Linked DNA regions of Homo sapiens: region 2 is linked to region 1. The links come from fine-mapping of genetic effects on gene expression. Tissue or cell type: whole blood. Region 1 holds a variant in brackets; the other region holds the start of a gene. All regions are shown on one strand. Distances are between the middles of the regions.

What was found. PIP is the estimated chance that this variant, and not a neighbour inherited with it, causes the effect. A credible set is the group of variants that fine-mapping cannot tell apart.
Region 2: it holds the start of SFXN3, and the variant in region 1 is the best candidate, but not a certain one, in a credible set for the expression of SFXN3 in whole blood (INTERVAL, PIP 0.84).

What each region holds. Positions count from the first base shown.
Region 1 is chr10:101,062,957-101,067,063 of GRCh38, reverse strand. It overlaps KAZALD1 (Kazal type serine peptidase inhibitor domain 1), which reads right to left. Exons shown (of 5, transcript NM_030929.5): 2 at 3,961-4,107; 3 at 2,643-2,803; 4 at 2,416-2,563; 5 at 5-2,238. The coding sequence ends at 2,144. Among named protein-coding and RNA genes, the nearest start is that of KAZALD1, 3.0 kb to the right of the region's middle. The variant C/G (reference allele first, on the strand shown) is at 2,472.
Region 2 is chr10:101,029,002-101,033,102 of GRCh38, reverse strand. It overlaps SFXN3 (sideroflexin 3), which reads right to left and starts at 1,869. Exons shown (of 12, transcript NM_030971.6): 1 at 1,569-1,869; 2 at 621-789. It overlaps PDZD7 (PDZ domain containing 7), which reads left to right and starts at 1,974. Exons shown (of 17, transcript NM_001195263.2): 1 at 1,974-2,030; 2 at 2,719-3,109. The coding sequence starts at 2,884. RefSeq lists an enhancer at 1,347-1,556.

The DNA of each region.
Region 1 (4,107 bases):
AATCCTCGGCATCTCAGCACGTTTATTAAACCTTTCCCGTCCCTGCGCCCGCATTACTTTAATAATAAATCGCGTGTCACTTTCCAGCGACATTATTAAAGCGGGTCCGCTGCAGCAGAGGCGGGGTGCGGGGAGGGAGGGGGCGGTGGACAACAGTTCTCCCATTCCAGGCTGTGGTGCTTGAACCAGCAGGGCGGGGAGGGGAAAACTGAGGCTGCTAGGAGGCTGCTCCTGAACACCTACAAAGTCGGCTAACGCGATTAAGGAGTGCGGATTCCCCGGGACCTGCGTGACCCTCTCCGGTGGGGTGGGGCTTTTGGTGAGGAGCCTCTGCTCTGCAGGTGGACGCGGTAGGAGCTATGGGCCCGCAGAGGGCGTCTTGGAGCCCAGCTGGGCGAAGAACAAGCTAGGGGCGGATTCCCTGGCTGATGCTGGGACTCACACCCACGTCCCCTCTTTCAGCGCCGGGCGGATTTTGGCCACAGCGCCGAACAGCACGCCCCACCCCCGCCTACCCCTCTGATTCTGCTTCTGTGGGCGCCCTGGAATCGGCTCCCGGTATCCAGCCCGCTTGCGCTGTTGTGCGCGGCTCCTAGGGCCGCCCGCTTCCAGCCTGGGTTCGGCAATAAAAACTGTCGCTGGCTTAAGGACCCGGGGCAAGCCAGCAGTAGATGGAGTAGTGCGTAGCCGCGGGAGGGGCGGCCAAGCAGGACCTGGGGTTGGAGTTCCGGACCACACCCCTCCCATGTGGCCAGGCTCCCTGCGTTGGGCCCCAGAGGACAAACTCTGACGCTGAGCCAAGGGCAGGCCCTCCCGCAGTGGCGCCAGGATCCGGGTGGAGCCCTGGCGTGTAGGAGGCTGTCGCCATCTACACACAGCGCCTCGGCCTCGCTGACTTATGCTTTCATTCTTTCCTCCAATCATTAAATAAACATTGAGTCTCACCAGTGTCCCTGGGATAGGTAAGGAGAATGAGGAAAGAGATTTGGGGACCCCAAGCCAGAGAGGACAGGTCACAATTGGGGCAGATAGGAAACAGCCTTACCATGACTCTGGCTTCTGCAGGAAATGGGTAGATTCCTATGGGAGCTGGGGAAGGGTATGGACCACACAGGTGACCAAACTTCCACCCTCCTCTATCCAGTTTATGCTTTCATTTTGGGGGCCAACCCACATAGCCCTGTTCCCCATTCTGGCCTGGGGAAGGGTTTGGAATAAGATGAGCAAAGAAGCAGATAATGTATATCAGCCCCAATGGAGGGCAGACGGGGAAGATAACTTCCCTCCAGCCATATGGCTCCAGCCTCCCTCCCTCAAAGGCGGGATAGGCCCAAGTTCAAACTTTCTCTTTGTACATCTGGCAGGCATGTGCTTAGAGAGCAGGCCCTGCAGCTTCTGGAAGCCAGAGTTCTGTTAGTGTGGGAGGCCTCCCAGGGATATTCAGTTTTCATGTGCACATCTGCATAAACTGTCTGTGCATCATTAGAAATCTTTATTGGTGCCTAGCCCTGTGCTAGCCTTTGTCCAATACAGAGTGGTATAAGATCTCGAGCTGGCCTCACCTATCTCTCTGCACTGAACTAAGTCATGCTCCGCTGTTCTCTCTCTTGTACAAAAGACGGCAGACAGCAAAAGGGACTGCAGTTAGTAGGTGCAACTGGGGCTTAGGAGAGAGGGAAAAGTTCTGGAAGATGAGTTTGGGGAAAGGGCAAACAAGCTAGATAAACGTTGGGGACCAGGAAATAGCAAGAACCAGGGCCTGGGAGGAAGGGCAGTTAGAACTGTGGCCCAGCAGGGCTGGAAGAAGTGGAGAATCCTGGTGCCTGCACCTCTGTGTCTGCTCAGGCCCCCACCCCAGCCTGGGAAACAACCTGTTGGAGGTCCTACTGGCCAGGGCATCTCCTGCATGGGCCCCTTTGTACCCCACCGGTCCTGGTCTCAGCTTCTCTCCCTACCCTCCTCCAGCTTTTGTCTCTATCCTACCACACTGCTACCTTGGAGTCAAATAGGCCTCCCATGATCATCCCTACTGACAGCATGAAAGCAGTCGATGAAGGGACCCTGCTCCCCTTTCCAGGTCTTTTCAAGAGCAGGGATGAACACTATAGCCGCTCACCCACCCCCATGGGCCAGAGCTCTGGACCTAGTAGTAATCGTCATTCTCTTCACTCTCAGCCTCCTCCTCAGGAACCAGGTTTAGTGATCGCAGCTGGGGGATGCCTGTAGAGTTCAGCTGGTCTGCAAACACACATGGGCAAAGAAGAGAGAACAGGAGAGAGGGGCTGTCGGTGCCCACATAGCCCAGTCTGCGGAAGGCTATGCTTGTGTATACAGACACATGGTCTGTTTCTTACACATTCACAACTGGAATCCAGCACCATCCCCCCAACCCCCAGAACTCAGGAATCCCCTTACCAGGTGTGAGCACTGTCAAGCTAGCAGGGGCCTCCACTTGACCCAGGGCATTGCGG[C/G]CAAGGCAGCGGTAAGTGCCCTCATCACTGGGACGCACAGCCTGGATCTGCAGCCAGCCAGTCACCTCAAACCTCTGGGGTCCACCCCTAAACTGGAGCCAGGCAAGGAATCAGCAGGGTCCTTCTGGAGGGCCCTGGGCTGCCTGAGGGAAGCCTCTCCCACCAGTCTACCTGCACAGAGATGTGGGGGTCATCCCCTGGCAGCTGGATGTCCAAGCCATCCTTCCTCCACTCGATGGAGGCCATGGGGTAGGCAAACACTTCACAGCCAAAGATCACATCCTGCCCTGTCACATTCCAAGTGTCATATGGATGTGACACGATCTGGGGCCCTGGGGGTGAAGGCGGGAGGTCTGAGAATAGCATGGCCCAGCAAAGGCATCCAGTCTGGCAAAGACATGATACACAAATTTTTGTGGACATGCTTGTGGCAGAACACAATATATGCTGAGGTAAATACACATCCATAAACACACCGTGACACACACAGGTACACACAGATATGGATGCTGGTACACACAAGGGTACCACGCAGACGTGGAGATAGGTATACATGCACATGTGCACATAGAACCTCATGCAGACCCAATGCACAAACAAGCACACACATCTACATTGTAGCTTGGCAGCCACTCTGTCCCTAACTGCTCCCCTGTCCTCATTTCACCCTCCCCAGCCTTTCCTGCGTGCCTGTAATCAAAACCTTCCAGATCCCCCTTCCCCTTTTCTAAACAGGCCCAGTTCCCAAAGGAGGAAAAGCAGCCGTTCCCTCCTCAGTACCCCCTGGGGGAGTCCTGCGGCAAGGCAGAGAACCTGAAGCTGGACTTGTGCGACAGGCAGGAAGCCTGCAGGAGTGGAGGAAATTGCTGGGACCCCCACGGGGTGTTTGTTTTCTGGCTGCCCCAGCCGAGCCAGACGCAGAGCCCGGGCTCAGGAAGTGAAAGTTACTAAAGCTACCAAGGAAAGCTAGAGGCCTGAATGGACCCCAGTCCCCAGGGATAGAGAAAGAACTTCCCGCTCCCCTTCACTAATCCCTAAAAGCAGGAGAAAGCAGAGAGGTGGGGAGACTGGGTGAACAAACTGCTCTAAGAATGAAACGTGATTGCATCTCACAGGAACCCGTCTTGCTGCCTGGACTCCACTGGTCTGGGAAAAGTCGGGGGGGTCTCTGAGCAAACCATAGGTTATGTGCCTGCGCCCTCAGAGGACCTGTCTCTCCCTGCCAGCCAGCTCTGGAGCTTTCACGTGGTTCAGCGAATGCAGCTTGCTGACGAAGCCCGGGACTCCCACTCCACTCCACCCCCCACCCCCACCTTAAGGTGGCAGCTTTTATGAACCAGTAGCGAGAGCAGGGTTTTATACTGGACTCGAGGCCTCTATAGCCTTATCTTTTTTGCTCTGCTGGCCAGAGACCAATGCTGTCAGGGGTCGGGGAGCAGTGCCTCTAGGAAACCTAAGTGCTGGGGTGGGGGCCCCGGGCCATGCGTACCCGATTCGCAGGGCCCCGGGTGTGCCACAGTGAGGTTGGCATCGGGCCGAGCGCGGGCCGCCTCCTGCAGGCGGCAGATCTGGGAGTAGGTGTGACCGTCGGACCCGCAGAGCGGACTCTGCGAACGACAGGCACACAGAGGTTCCG
Region 2 (4,101 bases), 34 kb after region 1:
AGCCATGTGTGTGCATGTGGGCACGCACAAGTCCTCTCTACAGACCCATTTTTCTCCAACTCACACTGAATGACCCCAGGCTCTCCCTGGTCCCTGGCCAGGCAGGGCTGGCACAGACACTCATCCACCTCTCTCTGGGCCACTTGCCTCCGGATAAGAGCAGGATTCAGTGGCTGCTCCCTCCACCCAGCACAGAGAGGAAAGCCTGGTGCAGCCATCTGGCTGAGTTGGGCAGAATCCTACAGAATGACTAATCCTCTCCAGCCACACTTCCTCCCGCAGAGGCAGAGACGCCCTCCCCTCACACTCACATACCCACACACAAAGACACTATCATGCACACCCTGCCCAGACATACAGACAGAGTGGAGGTGTCCTGTATACACCGGCCTTCAAACACCTTTACAGGCGCACACTGTGCCCATCTGCAGACACTTGAATGTGTGACTACACACAGCCCCACCCTGACATTCCTCCCCCCAACCTCCCTTGTGCCCTGTGGACTTGGACCTCCACAGAGCCGAGGACATTGACTGCACCAGGACAGACAGTTTCAAGGCAGGCCTCCTTCTCTGACCCCCATTCCAGAACCCCGCCCGCCGGGGAGAGCGAGCACTTACGCTTTCCATCGCTCTCTGAAGCTCTCAGAACCGCCTTCCTCTCTGCCTCCGCTGTCGCCGCCGGGCCCTCCCAGCCATCACGCGGGACGTCACGCGTGACGCCGACCAGCAGGGAGGGGCAGGAGCTTCCCGGCCGCGCCCACCCGGTGGGCACGGGGATTGGCAGAACCTGAGGGCGGTGGGTGTCATTCGAGGCGATGCCCCCAGCCTGGGCCACCTGGACCAGGCCCTAAGCTGCTTCCCAGAGCCAATCCCACCTCGGGGATCAGTTCTGGCCCCCTCCCCAGCCAAAGGGAGGAGGGGCTGGAGCCGCGGGCGCTGCTCCCTTGGTTTACAGTCCCCTGGCGGGCCTCAGCAGACCCCCAGCCCTGCAGCAAGCGGTCTAGGTGCCCAGAGAGAAAGCCCCGGGCGCAGGTGGGCGGTGTGGAGGGGCGGTCCTCTGCTGGCGCGCCGGGAGGGACTCGGGTTACCGCCTGGCTTGTTTACTTGATGGCTGCCTTGGCAATGGCCTTTGGCTTGCTTGTCCCCCTGGGCTCCTACCCCAGTATCCACAAGCTCCTCTTGTAGCAGCGCGGCATTCGCATCACTTCACAGCCCCGTTCCTGTCGTGCCTGTGCCTCTTCTATGTCCCCAGCCCTCTCCCTGCTCCCCCTCTGTAACCCCTAGCTCCACTGTGTCCCTGGTCTCCTTACGCTCCCAACCCCTAGCCCTGCACCCCAGACCGTAGCCCCACCCCTGAGATGTGGAGGGGCAGACGACCCCAGGAACCTCGCGGTCTGCATCCGAGCAAGTGCATCAGAAGGATTCTTAGGATTCTTCCGGTCCTGGGACCAGCTGCCCCACCCTGCGACCATTCCAGAACTGGGTAGCCAGAGACGCCTTCTGACAGAGGAGGAGGATGCAAGTGAAGAAGGCACCCCCTCCGCCACGCACATACTCACAACTCACCCAGCCACCACACAGAGCACGCCTGCAGCAAACTCAGGCTCACGTCCCGCTCTGCCCCGTGACGTCCCTCCACGGAGGCCTCAAGGGTGCCCAGGGAGGGGTGGCAATTCCAGGAGCCCCGGTAGCTGGCTCGGCTCAGAGAAGAGGTGGTTCGAGCCGGAGGGGAACAAGCCAGACCCAAGCCCTAAATTTGCGGAATGAGCTAGGGCGTCAGAACCAGAACTGGGGTGGGTAAAGAACTCCGCTGCCCGGGACCAGGTAACGCTCGGCTGTCCCTGGCGCCTAAGGGAGGTGCCGGAATAGAATGACTGGCGGCCCTACCAGCCAATGGGAGCCCGGGGCGGTGCAGGCCAGCCCAATTCCCGCAGCCTCCGCGCAGCGTGGGTGGGGTTTGCCGGCTGCGGCAGTAGCTCTCGCCTGCGGGTGGTTTGACAAGGCTGGCGGCGCCACACCAGCGACCAGGTGAGGCCGACCAGGCACAAAGGGGTGGGGGGCCTGGAGGGCCGAGTTGATGTTGGGGTGCTTCATTCTAGGTCCCAGAGCTTCTCTGAGGGAACTGGCCCTGGGTTTTGCGCGGGATGTCGTGGGACCCCTCTCCAGCAGATCCTCCCCAAAGCTTGGGAGAGGTTCATGCAGCCTCTTTAGACCCGGAGCCGCAGCCTGGAGCCCGCGGGTGTCTGGGGGTCTTCCTGGGCCTCAGCTGTCTAAGGTCCTGAAGCCCTATCCTCGAGGCCCAGCCCGCCCCACGCAGCCCCCGCCCCACCCCGGGCCACCTCCATGCCCGCATATGCATGAGAGAGGTGATGCCATGAGCTGTCCTGACCTCTCTTTTGTCTCACACCTCTCTAAGCCCCAGGGCCCGCAGTAATCCCAACTCCACTCTCAACCTCTACTGAGGACTGGGGACGGGAGTAGATGACTCAGCCCCGAGCAGGAATGAGGGGTGAAAGGTTCCCACCTGCCTTGTATAAAGTCAGCGAGAGTCCAAGATGGTGCCTGGACGGGGCAGTTCTCTGGCCTAGGGTGAGACAGGAGGGGGGCCTAAGGCATGGGAGGGCAGGATGCTTAAACCAGGGGGAGGGGTGGAAGTTTTAGGGGGCAGCAGGGGAAACATTTACACCCCTCCCTCATCCCTGCTCTCCCTGCCCAGGCCTGGAGCTCACACTTCTGAGAGGCATCGCAAGCGAGGGCCTTCACGTTACTGAGACCCCAGCCCCGCACAGAGGCTCATGGAGCTCGAAGCACGCAGGGCTGGCCTCTCCAGAGCTAGCAGATTCCTTCTGGACCTGTAGGGTGCCGCCCTAGCCCAGCCGCCATGGCGCAGGGTTTCGCAGTGGGCTTCGACCCACTGGGCCTAGGAGACCTGAGCTCCGGCTCTCTGAGCTCCCTCTCCTCCCGAGGCCACCTAGGCAGCGACTCAGGCTCCACCGCAACGCGATACCTGCTAAGGAAGCAACAACGGCTGCTGAACGGGCCCCCCCGCGGAATCCGAGCCTCATCGCCCATGGGACGCGTCATCCTCATCAACTCCCCCATCGAAGGTAGGGGCGGGACCCAGCCACTGGCCTGGGTTGGGGAGGGTGGGGGTAGGGGACAATGGGAACTCAGCAGGAGGAGGCAGAGCCAGTATGATTGGGGGAATTCAAGAGATGGGAGTCACAGGGAGGTGGCAGGCCGCCTGGGAACCCATACACTCTTCCTCACCTGCCCTTGGCCTCTCCTCCAGGCCAATCCTGCAGGGGTCCAGGGTCGTAGAAGGGTCAGAGGAGGGAAAGAAGGCCATGGCAGCAGGGACAGGCATGCGTGTGGTATGCTAGCCCCTGGTGGACAAGGCAGGGGATTGAACTGGCCTCTCTCCCATGGGCTCTGCCCTTCTCCAGATCCATTGTGTGTACTTCTGGGGGATGGGGCAGGATAAAGAAGGACATCCTCCATCAACCAGTCCATTGTGTGACAAGCTCTGTGCTGGGCTGCGAGGAGTCAGTGCCCAAGCGGGTAGACAGAATTCAGGGCTTCCGTGCTGAAGGAGGGGAATGAAGGCAGCACAGCAAATGTTCAGAAGAGGAGGGTTGAGGGTGGAGAGGGAGCTCCATCAGGGAAGGGGAGACCTAAGCTTATGTAGTTGCTTAATGCCGCTTCATGGAGCACAATTCTATACCAGCCCTGGGGAGGTGTTACAAGGGACCTAGAGAGAAATCAGGCTCCCTCTTCACCTTCCAGGAATCTACAGTGTAGCAGGACAGAGCAATAAGAACAGCTGGTGGCAGGGGTGAGCTGTCACCAACAAAGGCTGGAAGTGAAAAGCATGGAGCATGGTAGGTGGGCACTTAGGAGCCAGCCTGGCTGTAGTGACAGATGTGAGGTGACTAACAGCTGATGAGCAAGACAGGACCTAGAATGCCAGGTGCGGAGCCAGGCCCCCTGAGTCTGAGCTTTCTGTGAGCAGGACCAGATAAATATCTCCAGCTCCTCTCCTCTTTCTTAGCCAGCAGAGCTCCCCTGGCTGGATCCCAGACTGGACTGTTCAGGCCCT